Linked DNA regions of Homo sapiens: region 2 is linked to region 1. Evidence: fine-mapped expression QTL. Tissue or cell type: whole blood. Region 1 holds a variant in brackets; the other region holds the start of a gene. All regions are shown on one strand. Distances are between the middles of the regions.

What was found. PIP is the estimated chance that this variant, and not a neighbour inherited with it, causes the effect.
Region 2: GALNT8 starts here. The variant in region 1 is fine-mapped to the expression of GALNT8 in whole blood (INTERVAL, PIP 0.99). The same link has a PIP of 0.9 or more in T cells.

What each region holds. Positions count from the first base shown.
Region 1 is chr12:4,824,419-4,832,521 of GRCh38, forward strand. KCNA6-AS1 (KCNA6 antisense RNA 1) reads right to left here and starts at 6,353. Exons shown (of 3, transcript NR_199077.1): 1 at 6,012-6,353. It also overlaps a transcript of KCNA6 not described here. RefSeq lists enhancers at 1-494, 4,992-5,181, 5,242-5,401, 5,831-6,332 and a silencer at 1,091-1,291. The variant C/G (reference allele first, on the strand shown) is at 3,328.
Region 2 is chr12:4,717,337-4,725,420 of GRCh38, forward strand. GALNT8 (polypeptide N-acetylgalactosaminyltransferase 8) reads left to right here and starts at 3,064. Exons shown (of 11, transcript NM_017417.2): 1 at 3,064-3,552. The coding sequence starts at 3,342. It overlaps GAU1 (GALNT8 antisense upstream 1), which reads right to left and starts at 2,766. Exons shown (of 4, transcript NR_110112.1): 1 at 2,529-2,766. RefSeq lists enhancers at 2,185-3,180, 3,181-4,176, 4,177-5,172.

The sequences.
Region 1 (8,103 bases):
AATACTTGGTCATAACAGAGGCGACTCATGTAAAGGGGCTTACTACCTTCTTAGAGTGAAACTGTTTCCTTGCTAAAAAAGCCAGCAGCAGAGAATATCCAGGGATTTTGTTAAATTCCTAAAGAAAGAACATGAGCAATGAAGTGACTTACCCATTGAGAATCCCCGAGATCAGCGAGAACTTCCAGAAAACTTGGGAATCCACAGAGAGGTTGAATGACTGAGTGTGGAAGCATCTCATGACTCAGCTATTCACTTGGCTGACCTGTGGGCTGCCGTAAGCGGGAGAATGAACGGGAAGAAATGCACAAGGGTGTAGGTAGGATGCTTCCTCCCCGATGCGTAAGGTCAACACTTTTCTTTGCAATTATAATACCAATCTGTGGAAAACAGACTCAACTTACAGAGGATGTATTGGCTTTACCTTCAACATTTCAGGGATGTCTTTAATTTGCAAGCCAGTCAGCTGAACTCACTTAATATATCAATAGAGAATAAGGACAGATGACATGAAATAATTGAGCAGGAAGAGAATTCTAAAAGTCATGGAATTAATTGCCTTGCTGTGTATTAGAAAAATGTCTAGATTATTCCAGGCTTATTCTGAAAAATGCCCAGAGAAAGAGAATCCATAATATAGACTCCTTCAAGCTACTTGTGTTTGAGCACCCTTTGTCAGGATGTTTTCCTCATTTCTCAGTTACACATCTCCTGCTGCACTTTAAACTTCCTTCCTCCTGTTTTGTCTTCTGCTGAAATGGATACTCAAGTGACCATGTTACCTAGAATAACTCATGCCAGAGTTCCTCAAATGTGATCTGCAGAACATCAGTCCTACGCAACTTTCCATGGAGAAAGAATCCCCAGGCACTATGTTTCAGAAATGCTGCCTCTTGGAGATGCACAATGCATCTGAACATGAAATTAAAGGCTCTGAGAAGTCCTGCAGCAGTAAAACTATTTCACTTCTTTAAACCAGTGTTTTTCAACTTCTTACATTTTTAAAAATTTTTACCACAGAATCTCCATCCCCCTTTTATAGTAATGTCTGCTCACATACCCCCAAAACTCATCCAACAAATACATTTTGGAAAACTCGAAGAGATCTGAAGCTTGTTGCAATGGATTTGAGTGCATGGACCCTCAGCCATGAAAGGTTTTTTCAGTTGGACCATTCTGTGGCTTCTTATCAACCTTCTTAAAGTTCTTCACACCCCTCTTGAGTTGTTCAGAAACGGAAGTGGTTTTGATAAGGCACTGAGTAATGTGATAAAACACATCCTCTTCCCTATAGTCCTTATAAGTCTTCTTAAATAGAAGTCTTTGAGAAAATAACAGTAAGAGTTGGTCTTATTTGTTAGGTTTAGAGCTACCTTGCTAGGAAATGTCCACAGCTCTGATGCACTCTGCCAGGCAAATGAGGTCGTCTGCATGGCTTTTGCCTTACACTGTAACAGCCAATTCCTATGCACGTTGTTAACCAAATCAAAAATTGTAACATGGATTTTTTTACGATCACTTTTCTAACTAAAACCTTTTGATGAAAACATTGATGATAACCTTTACTCACTATCCTATTTATGAAATCTTACTCACAATCTGAGAAAGATGCAAATACCAGCAGTGAGTTGTATGTAACCAGGTTTTCTCAGTATTCTTTTCCATCTTCCTAAACACTGTTTTCAAGTGTGACATTTGTCCTTTCTCCCAAGGCATTTTTGGTGCTGACACACCACAGTTGGACCTGGTTCCTCTGGTGCTTGGATTTCAGTCTCCTGGAAAGCTGTTTTCTTCTAGGTGTTTTTTGTTTGTTTGTTTTGTTTTGTTTTGTTTTGGTGCTGCTGAGGGCTCTTACCTCTGACCCTCCTCTGCTCATCTAGCAAGGCCTGAGGTTTGCTGTCTGCTCCTCACCAACTGGTCCAGGCTGAAATTCCTTCTTCCATGGTGTCCCTTCTGTGCTCAGAGGCAAAAGCAGAAAGGAGGGAATTGCTCTTGTCCTGTTGTTGCCTTTGTACCGATTCCTTTTCTGTACATCTTGAGCCATGAGGAAAAGTTTCTGGTATTAAAGCCACTAAAAGTCAGAAGAAGTGGACTGTGGGGTGGGTGAGGATTGCATCCAATTCTGGGTCTGTCACTAACCTGCTGTGTGACCCTACACATGTCACCTGCCTGGCCCTCAGCAAATGGTAGCCATTAGTATTGTTCTCCCACCAGAGTCTTCACTGTAAAGTGAGGTCATTGGATTCAACGACTGGGTTTCTGCTTGAAAATTCTGCGGATACCCAAGTGTATTAATCAGATGTGCAGCTGGCTGCCTGAAAACTTGACAGACTTTATTGCTTGGCTTTTGCCACTGGAGTGATCTTTGAAAAAGAGAGTTGGAGTTACTAGGTTTTCAACTTTATGTAGAATCACTGAATTTCAGAGCTCATATACTCCAGTCTATTATTTTACAAAGATCAGAACTTACATTTAAAAATATACTGAGTAGGTTGTAGCAAAGTTTTGAAAGAGAGACAATAGTTTTTATCTACTGTCAAGCAATGATAAACGTCTTCCTTCTTCTTCCTTTCTGCCTCTATTCCTTCCTCCCTCCTTCCTTTCCTCCTCTCCTCCCTCCTCCCTCTCTTTGCTTCCTTCCCTACGTCTTTTCCTCCCTCCTCCCCTCCATCGTCCCCTCTCTCTTCCCTCCTTCCTCCTTCTTTCCTTCTTTTCCTCCCTCCCTCTCTCCCTCGTTCTTTCCTTCCCTCCTTCTTTCCTTCCTTCCCTCCTTCCTTCCTTCCTTCCCTCCTTCCTTCCTTCCTTCCTTCCTCCTTCCTTCCTTCCCTCCTTCCTTCCTTTCTCTCGCCCTTCCCTCCTCCTTCCCTCCTTCCTTTCTATTTTTCTTAGATGAAGCCTATCCTAGTTATTAAGTGATTCCAGATCCTTCTTTATTTCGGTGTTGCAAAATAAACATTCCTTGGTTTTGGCCGTTTCAAGCACCTTGGCATTATGATGGGGAAAATGCTGGGCAAGAAAAGACATTTCTATATTAAGGAGAAGCAGGGGAGTGCAGCCCAGCAGGGATGCGAACCAGTATTCCCTGGGTCTCAGATTCCACACTAGAGGAAGAAGTCTGTAGAAAGGACAAAGGAAAGAAAGGTTGGTGTTACTCTCTGGTATCCTTAGACAAAGTAGAAGCTGGCTTCTTCCATTTCTGGGAGACAGCAGTGAGCAGCCCCAAGGGCAGGCATTCGATTGTAGTGCCTAGGTCACCTCACTGTGCCGCAAAGTGGCTCTGGGATGGAAAAGTGTCTAGCTCTGCCCTCACAGCTCTGCCCTGGGAAG[C/G]TTCCGAGCTGGGGCTTAGCCCTGCACAGCTCCACCAAGGTCCTGCTGCTTTTCGGTGTGTGTTCATCATTCTCATCCCTCTCAGCTTTCCTTCCTACTCTTAGTGCAGCCTCACGAAGCCTCACAGTCCCTGGACAGGGATAGGAAGCCTGTGTGGGCTCCTAATGTGCTGTTTGACCTTGAGTAAGTTGCTTCAATTGAACGCTTTATTTTCAGACTCTAAAAGGAATATCTGCTCATCATCGAAAATTACCCCAATTTAGAAAAGTATAAGGGAGAAAATAAAAATCCCATAACCCCCCCACCAGAGACACTCAGTGTTGGAACTCGGTTGTATTTCTCCCCCAGACTAACTTTGTCTATGTCTGTATCTGTATCTCTATAGAGACACTCAGTGTTGGAACTCGGTTGTATTTCTCCCCCAGACTAACTTTGTCTATGTCTGTATCTGTATCTCTATAGAGACACTCAGTGTTGGAACTTGGTTGTATTTCTCCCCCAGACTAACTTTGTCTATGTCTGTATCTGTATATCTATAGAGATCATTCAGCATTTCATCTGAAAAGCTTCATATTATGTCTCTAGTTTTCTCATGCAATTACTACATAGCCGTCATGGAGATGCAGCATTCTTTTGGTAACCCACTTCCTATTGGACGTTCAGGTTGCTTCTAATGAACGGTGCTACAACGAACACTTGTAGTGTAGATATTTGTTCACATTTATGACTCCTTCCTTGGCTATACTCCTAAAAGAGTCAAGAGATGTAAACAAAGTGAGCAATTAATTTTCTAGGTATCACCTTTCTCACCTATAGTAAAACAACAACAGAAACAACAATCACTGATAGCAGCGGACACTCACATAGCATCTTGTTTGCCAGGCATGTCTCTAAGGGCTTATGTGTACCAGCGCATTTAATCGTCCCAGTTGCCCCGTTATTATCTCCATTTCACAGAAGTAGCTTGCCCAGAGTCACACACAGCCAGTAAGTGGGGTGGTAGGATTTCAGCCTGGGCAGTCTGGCTCCAGAGTCGTGCTCTTATCTGCTAAACTAGTGTTGCCCCTGTGGGATGAAAGAGCTAAAATGAAGAATCCCTGGGGTCCTGTTACCTGGGAACATCGCTAATGTAGCATGGAATCCTGCAAATAATGCTAGAACGGAGTAATGCAGTTGCCTGATAAGAGTTCACCGGCTCCTGTCATCCTCTTCGTCCTCCCATTTGTGTGTTTGACGAGCTTGGGGTCTCTGTGTTTGTGAGTGCATGTGCATGGATATGCAAGTGTTTGTATAATTTTATGAATGGAACAGAGTCCGCAGTGTGTGAAGCAAGAAAGCCTGAACAATCTATTGACACAATAAAGCACTCATAATTGATGCTGTTAGTTATAGATAACTCATCATCGTTTCCTTTTTATCTTAAGGTTCCCAGGCACGTTGGCTGGGAAATGTGTCATTTTATAATTGGAGTTTCACCCCGGTGGAGCAGGAATAGGATGGGATTTGGCTGTCTACTGTAACCCCATCCCCCCAAAGCATGTCTGTACTTACCGTCTGAGGAGGGTGCTTCCCCTCCTTGAGCTGATTTGCCTGTGCTGTCCAGAAGCATTGCTGGATATGATTATCCAGTAGAAAAGGAGCTAATCGACAAACTTTTCACTGGCATAACGTGTCCACATTGCTCTTATTGCTCGCTAAATATAGAGGTTGCCAGGACCCCTTGAAATTTTGATTCAGAAGATCTGGGAGAAGCCTGAGAATATGCCTTTTTAAAAAACATGTGCTCTGAGTGATCACCTTCATGGATTTTGGGGAAGTCTTAGGTAGCAGGTCTCAACCTTCATAGGATATCAGCATCACCAGATTCTTTTGAAAAAAGTACCACTTCCTGTCCTTCTGCTCACTGCCTGCCCTAATTTGAATAACTGATCTAGGGTGGTTTCCAAGTTCAGGATTTAAAAAAAAAAAAGTCTCTAGAGGTTCTTGTGTGCAGCCATAGTTGGGTACCTCCAGCCCAAGAAGTTCTGCTGATAATATCGCACCTATACATTTAATTGCACTTCACATTTTACAACTCTCTTTCACCATTGAACATCGTAACAATTCACTAAGGTCAGTAAAGCAGGCATTATTATATTGTCCTTGGCCGAGAGAGGTTGACTGAATTGCCCGAGGCTGCACAGCTTCTCCCTCAGTCAGCAGCAGCTGTTCCCTACTTGGCTCATGGCCAGTCCTGCCAGTTCTTTTGGAAGGGGCAGCCTCCACTCCCCTGAGACTCACAGGATGAAATCAATTGCCTCTCCTAGTGCTGATGCTCGCGAGGCTCTTTCTTCCCCTTCTCAGCCACATCTTTTCTACTGCAGCCACTCTTCCTGCTCAGAGGGCCTCTCTCTGAAAGGTGCAGTTGCGTTCCCCTCCCATGCTCCATCCCACTTAACGGTTAGGTCATGGCACTGAGGGATGGACAGCTTGGAGCCTGGACAGTCCACATCCTCCACCGTGGTCTGAGGACAGAGACGTGCTGCCCCCCAGCTCCAGCCCCTTCGATGCCATCCTGCAGAAAGCACTGTGCACGCTGCATGGCAGGAGCCAGTAAAGTTCCACACCCCCATCCCAAATTCTCACATCCACCACCAAAGCTTCCTTCACCCCTGCATCCCACCGCGGATAACCTGAAAGCCCACCTGAGTCCTTCCTGGGAGGCGGCTGTGTGGGGCTGGAGCCCCCTGCAGTGGTGAGTCCCACTCCGGACACCTGGCCAATGGGAGCTTAACAAGGTGGCCAGCGAAAGAGAAACAGAACCCGGTAACGGCATCTGCCCCTTCCGCCATCCTCCACCCCGCAACCCGCTGCGGGCTCAAAATCTCTCCTCATTCAAACCGAGGACTTTTGTTTCTCTTTACTGTTCCTCTCCTTGTCCAGACCTTTTCCTTCACACAGGCTGTATCTTGGAGAGGCTCCCAGTGACTGTAGACTTCCTGTGTCAGAATCCTGCAGCCTCTGTCCCTGGGCTGCTTGGGCGGAGTGGGAGGCTGCGGGAGAAGGCGGGGTTTGCCTTGCAGGCAATGCGGGCAGGGGCGCTGCACCCAGGGAAGAGTTCCAAATGCTGATTCTCCCCATGGCCTTTACCTACCTACCTATTCAGCAGCCTTGCAACTGAGACGAAGCCACCCCCTAGCAGACTTTTGCAGGATATCGTTCACTTTCCTCTCTCAGGCCCTGCCCACCACGGGTTGTTGGTTTTGTGAGTTGGTGTGGGGGAGTCAGCAGGGTCCTCAGTGACTTTTGATCTTTCAGCGCTGACTTTCAGGAAAGGTAAGCTCTCTGCCAACAAAGCTGGTCTCCGCTGTGCCTCCTCCTCTTATACAACAACCCTAAGTGGCTTTCCTGCCAGGTGAGAGGATTTGCAAGGACTGCGGAGGAATATGGGACCGACGAGCTCTCCTTTCTCAAAACAGAGGGAGCCTTGGTGCAGATGCACAAAGTGGTCCTTGAAGTTGCATGTGGCCCGGAGCGGCTGGCTTGGTGGATCTTTACTGTTCTGGTTGGGCATTGTCAGGCAGCTATCAGAGGGCCCAAGAGTCCTTCACAATAACTCGTTATCACCCACAAGCAGCCAGCCAAGTTAGTACCTGCTTGACCCCGTCCTGCTGACAGTGGATTGGACCAGGGTTGAGCCTGAGAGCCAGCCAGCATGAGCCTCTTTCCTAGAAACCGTTAGTCAGGAAAAAAACGTTCTGGTTCAGTCTGGGCTAGCCTCTCTATGGGAGAGATGGAAAACCTCCCAGCCATGGGAGCTGGAAGGGGTCGGATCCATCCTCCAGCTCCGCTTTCTCCTTTTGTAAATGCCAAAAAGAATTGGGGTCCTGAGTGATGACTTGATTGGCCCAAGGCCACGTGGCTACTATGACTACTTTATAACAGAGCTGGATTTTGGAGTCCAGTGTGTTAATTCACTTACTCCCTTGGCTAAGACACGGAGCTTCTGAAAATAATCTCTTATGAGAGCTTCCATTCAGCTCAGACTTTGAAGAAATGATAGTTCTTGCATACTATATACAGAGAGAGCACAGGTCTCAGTATCAGACTGATCTGGGCTCAAACCCTGGCTCTCCGAGTCACTAGTATTGAGATCTTGGGCACATTTCTCATACACCTTGTGTTCCTCCAGTATAAAATGGGGATCACTCTGGTCTCACAGAAACATGGTGAGGGTGTTCTATTGAGTAGAAGATACGCTTAGCAAATACTCATTGCTAAATAAAACAAGGCTTCCTGGTCAAAATGAGTAATAGCTCTCTCCTTCCTAGTGCTCTGATTCTGAAGATGGTGTAGTTGTGGAATTATTTAGTGCCCTCATGTTTGTGGTTGGGACCAGAGAACAGGGGCCTTTCTTTTGCTTTTCTTCAGACCCCGAGAGCCTGGGTGTCATCAGTCAGCCCACGACCATCCCTTGTGGGCTTGGGAAAACTCAGACAGAGAGGGAAATGTGAGACTCTGGCAATGTGAAAAAAACAAGTACCTCTCTATTACTTATTTTCTAGTCTTGTGAAGTTTGTTCAACCTACAACCCAGCATTGATTCAAGGCCTCCTCTGTGACCCCACCCCAGCGGCAGTGCGCCCACTGGGTAAGATAAAGTGAGAGGTGCAGGGACGCACAGGTAGAAGGAGATCCTTCAGGCCTGGTCACATCTGAGGTTATGGGGCGGTGGCCTGATACTCCTGAGACAATACGCTTTTTGATACTCTTTTGAGGGTGGCTGCAGAGGACATTG
Region 2 (8,084 bases), 110 kb before region 1:
CAGGCTGGAGTGCAATGGCACGATCATGGCTCGCTGCAGCTTCAACCTCCTGGGCTCAGGTGATCCTCCCACCTTAGCATCCTGGGTAGTTTGGGCCACAGGCATGTGCCACCATGCCTGGCTGATTTTTTTAAATTTTTTGTAGAGATGGGGTTTTACCGTGTTGCTCAGGCTGGTCTTGAACTCCTGGGCTCAAGTGATCTGCCTGCCTCAGCCTCCCAAAGTGCTGGGATTACAGGTGTGAGCCACCATGCCATGCCAATTTAAAAAAAAGTTTATTTTTTAGTAGAAACAGGGTCTCAGTATGTTGCCCAAGCTGCTCTCAAACTCCTGGGAATCAAGCCATCCTCCTCCTGCCTCAGCCTCCCAAAGTGCTGTGATTGCAGGCATGAGCCACCATGCCCGGCTGGTGTTGCTGTCTGTTGATAGGCTCTTCCAAGTTGAGATTTTCCTGGTTGTTGATATGACAAGTGATTTTCTATTGCATCTTGGCCATTCTGAATATAACTTTTTGAGACTCTGGATCCTATGTAAATCTGTTTTAGCAGGCCTTTCATACACTGTTCTGGTGGGGAGAGGGAGATTTCATCTCATCGCTGCCAGGTGGGAGAGGAAGCCCAGGTTCCATGCTTGGCCTCCACTGACACCTGGTGGGGAGGGCTGCCTCATTACTGATGGGTGAGGGAGGGAGTTCAGGTTCCCCACTAGCCCTCTGCTGACACCACACTGGCTGAAAAGGGGAGGGCCACTGTTCCTTTACTGATATCATGTGGGGACAATGACAAAAATGCCAGCTCCCCAAGAGACCTTCACTGACACACCCTGGAGGGGAAGGTGGGGGATGCAGGGGCAAACCCTCACAGCTGGGGTGAGGTTGGAAGTCTAGGCTCCCCACGAGGCCTCTGTGGATGTGGTGGGCATGGCACTGCAAGGTTTTCAGTGGCATTTGGCTGGAGTAGGGCAGTTGTTGTCTAAACATCTTCTGTCTTGCTAGGCTTCCCATTTCCTGTTTCTTTGGTTAGAGAAAGCAGCTTTTTCTTGGGGCTTCTATTGTCTCTGCCCATTGCATTTCCAAGTTGTTGACTGCTCCAGCATCCAGCAACTTGGAATCTATTTCCTACAATAGCTAGGATATCTGGAGATCTCTAGTCAGCCTGCCCTGTTCTCTCTACCTTTCAGAGTCTTCTTAGGTTTGTTTTACATATCATGTGTACTTTTTACTTGCCTTGATGGGAAGGAATAGAGAAGATAAATGTAGGTATTTCTTCTTGTCCCAGAAGCAGAAGGGTTATGCTTTTTTGTTTGTTTGTTTTTTGTAGTTGTTGTTGTTGTTGTTTGAGATGGAGTTTTGTTCTTGTTGCCCAGGCTGGAGTGCAGTGGCGCGATCTCGACTCACTGCAACCTCCGCCTCCTGGGTTCAAGCGATTTTCCTGCCTCTGCCTCCCAAGTCGCTCGGATTACAGGTGCCTGCCACCATGCCCAGCTAATTTTGTTATTTTTAGTAGAGATGGCGTTTCACCATGTTGGCCAGGCTGGTCTTGAACTCCTGACCTCAGGTGATCCACCTGCCTCGGCCTCCCAAAGTGCTGGGATTACAGGCGTGAGCCACTGCGCCTGGCTGGATCATGCGTTTCTTATGTTTTGAGTCTAATTTGCAAGTGGGAGGCTGGGAGACATTTTCTATCCCTGCGAAACAGAAGAAGTGATTCCTTTTCATTTTGTTCATTTTCATCCTGTTTTTCCTAAAGCCACATTACTTTCCTTTAATCCACATGTCCGCCTCAGCACATGTCACCATGTGCTGTGTTTGGGACGTAGTAAATAGTCCAAAGAGCCAGGCCGGGGTGGAAGCTGTGATTTTGACGGGATTGACAGTAGACTGAGAACTTTGAACTTTTAGCCTTGGGGAACAATTTTATGTGTTTATTCTACAATGATGATCACTGGTGATTTGTCCAAAACATATTATAAGTGTGAGGTGTGGAGGCAAAGGAGTTACTGGAAGCTGGGGCAGGGCAGAAGCCCAGTGTATGAAGTTGTGCAGAGGACAAGCAAAGGACAGAGACCAGTGAATCGGAGTCATCCCCTGAGGCTCAACCCCGGGCACCGCCTCCAGCTCTTCTCCACCTGCTTCTAGGCAGTGAAGTCCTAGGAACTAGCAAGAAAGTCTGTCCTTAAGTTTGTGGGACAAGCATTTGTTGCACACCTACTATGTCCAAAACCCTGTAGAGTTAGGTAAAAAGACATCTTAGATCCCAGCTCTCCAAAAAAGCAAGGATCTAAGTGTACAGAGACTTCTTGCTTCGTGATTTCTTCTTCATCCTATTTATCCCCTTCTTATACCCACAGGACCAGACCTCACATGCCCTATCAGAGTCTCCCAGGTGGTTTTTCCAGGGAGAGAGAACATTAAACATCAAACAAACATATATAGAGAAAAGCCTCTCACCCAGGCAGCCTGAGCTAGCTGCAGGAGCAAGCATTCTTCTGACTTCTGAGACAGTACAAGGTGTGTCCAGGTGACTTACCTGTCACTGGGCAGCTGCCATGCGCACTCCTCACACCTGACGCTGCTCAGGGAGAAGCCAGGCAGCTATAATAGTGTTCTTGGCCGGAGAACATCTGGCCTAGCAGGCAGGGTGTCATCTATGAAGCTGGGTGGAGAGAAAGCTGTTGGGGAAACCAGCCCCACACCACCCAGCGGATACCCCGAGTCCGGCGGAGACAAAGGAGTTAGAAAGAGACAGAACAAGCGTTTAAAAGGCAGGTCCAGGGGACCAGAGCGTTGGAGGCTTGCTCACGGCCCAGAGCTCTGGGCTCCACCCAATTTATTGGTTTACAAGCTCTTTGTTCTTAGGGCAGATGGGAAGGGGAGGAAGGGATGAGGAAAAGGATTAATCAGTGAGTCATTCGATAAGATGTGTAACAGTGGCGGTTTCTGTGAATTTCCTTGAGCAAAGGCGTGTGTCTAAACTACTTAAGATCTTTAATGACTGAAATGGGTGGGAGTGGGTTTCAGGAGGAGCCAAGATGTTTGATTATACTCCTCTGCTTCAAGGGAGTGTTATCTCCCTGAGCAACCTGTGGAAAGCCGCTGAGCAACCTGTGGAAAGCCGCTGAGCGGTTATCCTCTCGGGGCATAAAGACAAAGAAGGCAATAAGGAGACTTTGCTCCTCAGAGGCCACCCGTGGCTTCCCATGGGTGTCTCACACAGGGGAGACCAACTCAACTGGCACCTAGAACTCTCTTTCCCACAAAAGCTAGGCTGGTTCTGATTCTTAACCTGCTCCAGCAGTGACACACTCAGTCCCACAGGGAGTGGACGACCCCCAGGAAGAAGATGATGTTTTGGAGGAAACTCCCCAAAGCCCTCTTCATTGGGCTGACTCTGGCCATTGCTGTCAATCTCCTTCTGGTATTTTCTAGCAAGGGGACTTTACAAAACCTGTTTACGGGTGGTCTCCACAGGGAGCTTCCTTTACATCTGAATAAACGCTACGGGGCAGTGATAAAGAGACTCTCCCACTTGGAGGTGGAATTGCAGGATCTGAGTAAGTTTACAATGCTAACCTGGAAGGTGTGTGTGTGGGTGTGTGTGTTTGGGGCACTTAGGAAAAAGGGATATGGAAGGAAAAATGGGTGAGAGGTCACATTTTCATCTCAGTCGCTCATTGAAGCATCTGACACTGAATTCTGTGCCTTCAAATGGGAGATGGGTATTGAGAATGAAGTGAGTAGAAGTGGAAATTAGAGCAAGCAGTATGGGGGAGGTGAGCATGTGTGTGTGTATGCGTGTGTGGGCTTGTGCACATGCATTATCATTATATCTACATATGTGCAGGCAACGAGAAGAATAAGAATCCCAAGGGCCATAGACCTGTCCTTAGGCCTATTGAAGGGGTGGGTTGCACCTCCACACCTGTGGGTGTTTCTCGTTAGGTGGAACGAGAGACTTTGGAAGAGAAAAAGACACAGAAACAAAGTATGTAGAGAGAAATAAGGGGGCCCAGGGGACCAGCGTTCAGCATACGGAGGATCCCGCCAGCCTCTGAGTTCCCTTAGTATTTATTGATCATTCTTGGGTGTTTCTCGGAGAGGGGGATGTGTCAGGGTCATAGGATAATAGTGGAGAGAAGGTCAGCAGATAAACACGTGAACAAAGGTCTCTGCATCATAGACAAGGTAAAGAATTAAGTGCTGTGCTTTAGATATGCATACACATAAACATCTCAATGCCTTAAACAGCAGTATTGCTGCCCGCATGTCCCACCTCCAGCCCTAAGGCGGTTTTCTCCTATCTCAGTAGATGGAATATACAATCGGGTTTTACACCGAGACATTCCATTGCCCAGGGACGGGCAGGAGACAGATGCCTTCCTCTTGTCTCAACTGCAGAAAGGCGTTCCTTCCTCTTTTACTAATCCTCCTCAGCACAGACCCTTTACGGGTGTCGGGCTGGGGGACAGTCAGGTCTTTCCCTTCCCACGAGGCCATATTTCAGATGGTCACATGGGGAGAAACCTTGGACAATACCTGGCTTTCCTAGGCAGAGGTCCCTGTGGCCTTCCGCAGTGTTTTGTGTCCCTGGGTACTTGAGATTAGGGAGTGGTGATGACTCTTAACGAGCATGCTGCCTTCAAGCATCTGTTTAACAAAGCACATCTTGCATAGCCCTTAATCCATTTAACCCTGAGTCGACACAGCACATGTTTCAGGGAGCACGGGGTTGGGGGTACGGTTACAGATTAACAGCATCTCAAGGCAGAAGAATTTTTCTTAGTACAGAACAAAATGGAGTCTCCTATGTCTAGTTCTTTCTACACAGACACAGTAACAATCTGATCTCTCTTTCCTTTCCCCACGCCTATGTGTGGTAGGGGCTGTTGAAGAGAGGTGGCAATCTCTGGGGCAAGGGCCTCGCTTCCATTTTGCGGTGTGCTCCTTTCATGAACTAATGAGGGCTTTGTTAGAGGACCTAAGATCGAATCCTGATGTGCCATTGTGGTTGTGTGACTTTGAGCAAGTGCTTCTCTCTCTCAGCCTCAGGTTCCTGGTCTGTAAATGGAGATGATGATAACAATAGTGATAGTTATCAACCTGACCTAATAGGGTTGTGAAGTAGATGCAGAAGGTGATCTATAAACTGCTCTGTGCCAAATTTTAACCTCCTCATTTAAACTTAAGGGTAAGATTTCAACACATTCTGGGGTTTGTTTGTGATTCCGGCTCACCATGGAAGTCTAATGCCTCTGAATTTTATGTGCCTGTGCATCCAACTTCAGCAAGGGAAGCAGCAATTTCCCCCTGCTCCCAGGTAACAGGGATCAAATGCTGGAACCCCATAGGGAGGTGTTTTATGTGTGGGCAGGGATGTGACTGCCCAGGTGTGTGCACATGGGGCTGGAGTTGGGGAAAGTGTCTTTTAAAATGAGAACTGAGCATTGTCAGGGTTCAGGGTGAGGCTGGGAGATGGGTGGAAGGAAAGGCAGGAAGAGAAAAAGGAAGGGAGAGAAGAAATCAGGGAAAGAGCGAGGAGAGTGAGAAGGGAGATGAGAGAGGAGAAAAGAGCTGGGACAGGAAAGGAGCAGAGAAGTGAGGGAGTCCAGGGAGAGAGAGTGAAAGAGTTTGTATGGAGACAAGAAGAAAAGAAGGGAAAGTGTGATGGGAGAGAAGGAGAGAATAAAAGGAGAGAGGAGGAGTCCTAAGGCACCCATAGCACCTTCCACGTCCTCCTTCATAAGACTCATCATATTTTATTATGGTACAGTTTTATGGAAAGCAAGTTTCATAAGTGCTGTTTCCATGAACGTCTCATTCACTACTCATTTCTATTCATACATCGAAATTCCATAGATGAATAAATGAGTGGGTGTGTCTAGGAAAGAGAGAGAAAAAGACAGGCAGACAGGGATGAAGGGAAGAGTGATACGGGGCAAGAGAGTGGATGAAACAGAGGGAAGATCATCAGCTCCACAAGCCCTGGCTTACCTGGGTGGGTCGGACATTGCCCATGCAAATATGCTTGGTGCAGCTTCACCAGGAGGATGCCTGTGTACCTAGGGTGGTGACCCCAGCACCACCCTCACTATTTGGCAGAGCACCCAGACCACACCAGGACTGTCTCACCCATCCCCAAGGCTCATCACACTGGCTCAGCCTCCTCAAGCCGTAAAATGGCAGGAGTTCTACCCAAAGCCCTGCTATTCTTTCCATCAGCTAGGACACAATGTGCCATGAGGAGCCAGCCAGAGCCATCTGGTTTACTCCTCTTTCCTTTTTTGCAAAGATCTTTCTTGTTATTCTTGGTGCTCCCACATTTTATTCGCTCTGAAATGTTGTGATGTCAGAGACTCACTACCACCTGAGTTGAACCTCAAAAAGTCTTCTGGGCCCTGTTTCTAGATCACCAATGCTTTTTTTTTTTTTTTTTTTCCACAGAGCTTCCTATAACTAAAAGCCTGTTTAATTACCCTTCATCCTGTTTGCTCATTGCCTCCAGGATTCCAGGAAGATTTAAAAAAATCAGAAGTCGGCCGGGCGCGGTGGCTCACGCCTGTAATCCTAGCACTTTGGAAGGCCGAGGCGGGTGGATCACGAGGTCAGGAGATCGAGACCATCCTGGCTAACACGGTGAAACCCCGTCTCTAGAAAAATACAAAAAATTAGCTGGGCGTGGTGGCGGGCGCCTGTAGTCCCAGCTACTCGGGAAGCTGAGGCAGGAGAATGGCGTGAATCTGGGAGGTGGAGGTTGCAGTGAGCTGAGATCGTGCCACTGCACTCCAGCCCGGGTGACAGAGCGAGACTCCGTCTCAAAAAAAAAAAAAAAAAAAAAAAAAAATCAGAAGTCAATAAGGATACTTAGTTGAATCATGTAAGCTACCAAGAGCAAATGCAAACAATAATAATTATATCCCTATTGAGGGAGGGATCAATGACTCTAAGCCAGTTTTCTGGAACCTCCCTCAGGGTTCATAAAAGCCCCACTAGGGGAATGTCAATGGATGTGTCTGTTTTGGGGCTTGGAAAGTTTCAGTATAAGTTATGGGGATAACCTAGTGACACTGTATTCATACTACCGGATTGTGCATTTCCTCAAATTGACTTTAGGATGGCCAGGTCCAAACCAGCTCCCACTGATAGCCATGAGTGAAAGAGAAAATCAGATATCCCCCCAAGGAAGAACGCAGAGGAGCTCAGAGGTAGGAAGAACCCAGTACCACCCTGTGGCCCCTGTATGCTTAGGACAGAAAAGTATGAATAACCATAGTGTTCCATCTGGGACACTGTAAACAGTATGCTCTCACTTCTTTTTTCTACCTGAACAAGTATGCATGGTGTTCACATGAGCCTCCTTTGAGAGACCTACCATTTACTTTTTGCCCAAGTTTTTTCGACTATCCTCTTTTTGTCTTAACCACTTGAAGAGGTGATTCTCTTTCTCCTTTTCCTTCTTTTTGGGCCAGTCTTACGTCACTTTACAAACATGTTCTCCTCCCAGTCACAGGACTCCCCTGCTTCCCTCTTGGGGGCTGTATATGGATCTGAAATCCAGCACACACGTTCTGCTTGCCAAGCCATGTGCTGTGGCACGAGATGCATCTACCCGGAGAAAATTCACACGATGGGGCTGTCCCCTCACCAAGCTGCTGACCCTGAGTTGCAATCATTCAGAAAAAAAGGATGCCTTCTTCTAACTTGTAGAAAGATGCTGGACAGGCTACACGTGATCCTGTCAGTCTGGTTGAAGTTTAGTGTGGGCTTAAGGGAGGATTAGTAGAAACAAAGTAGATCCTATGTCAGAGTGCCTTGATCACCATGGTGGGATTTAGTGCTGAAGAATGTCATCATCACTAAACACTAAAATGGTTACTTTTTCTCTCTTTTTGCTGAGTTCACAGATTGAGCTTGAGGGAGTTCAAGGTGCATATGCTAAGATACTCCAGCACAAATCTTACTGGGTGGAAAGGTGAGGTAAATAATAGATGACGTCATGGATCCTGGAGGGCATCTTCTGCATAAAACATCCTCTGCCTGGGTCTATCACTATCTGTTCATTCTTTTGAGTTAAGGCAGTGTTTCCCGA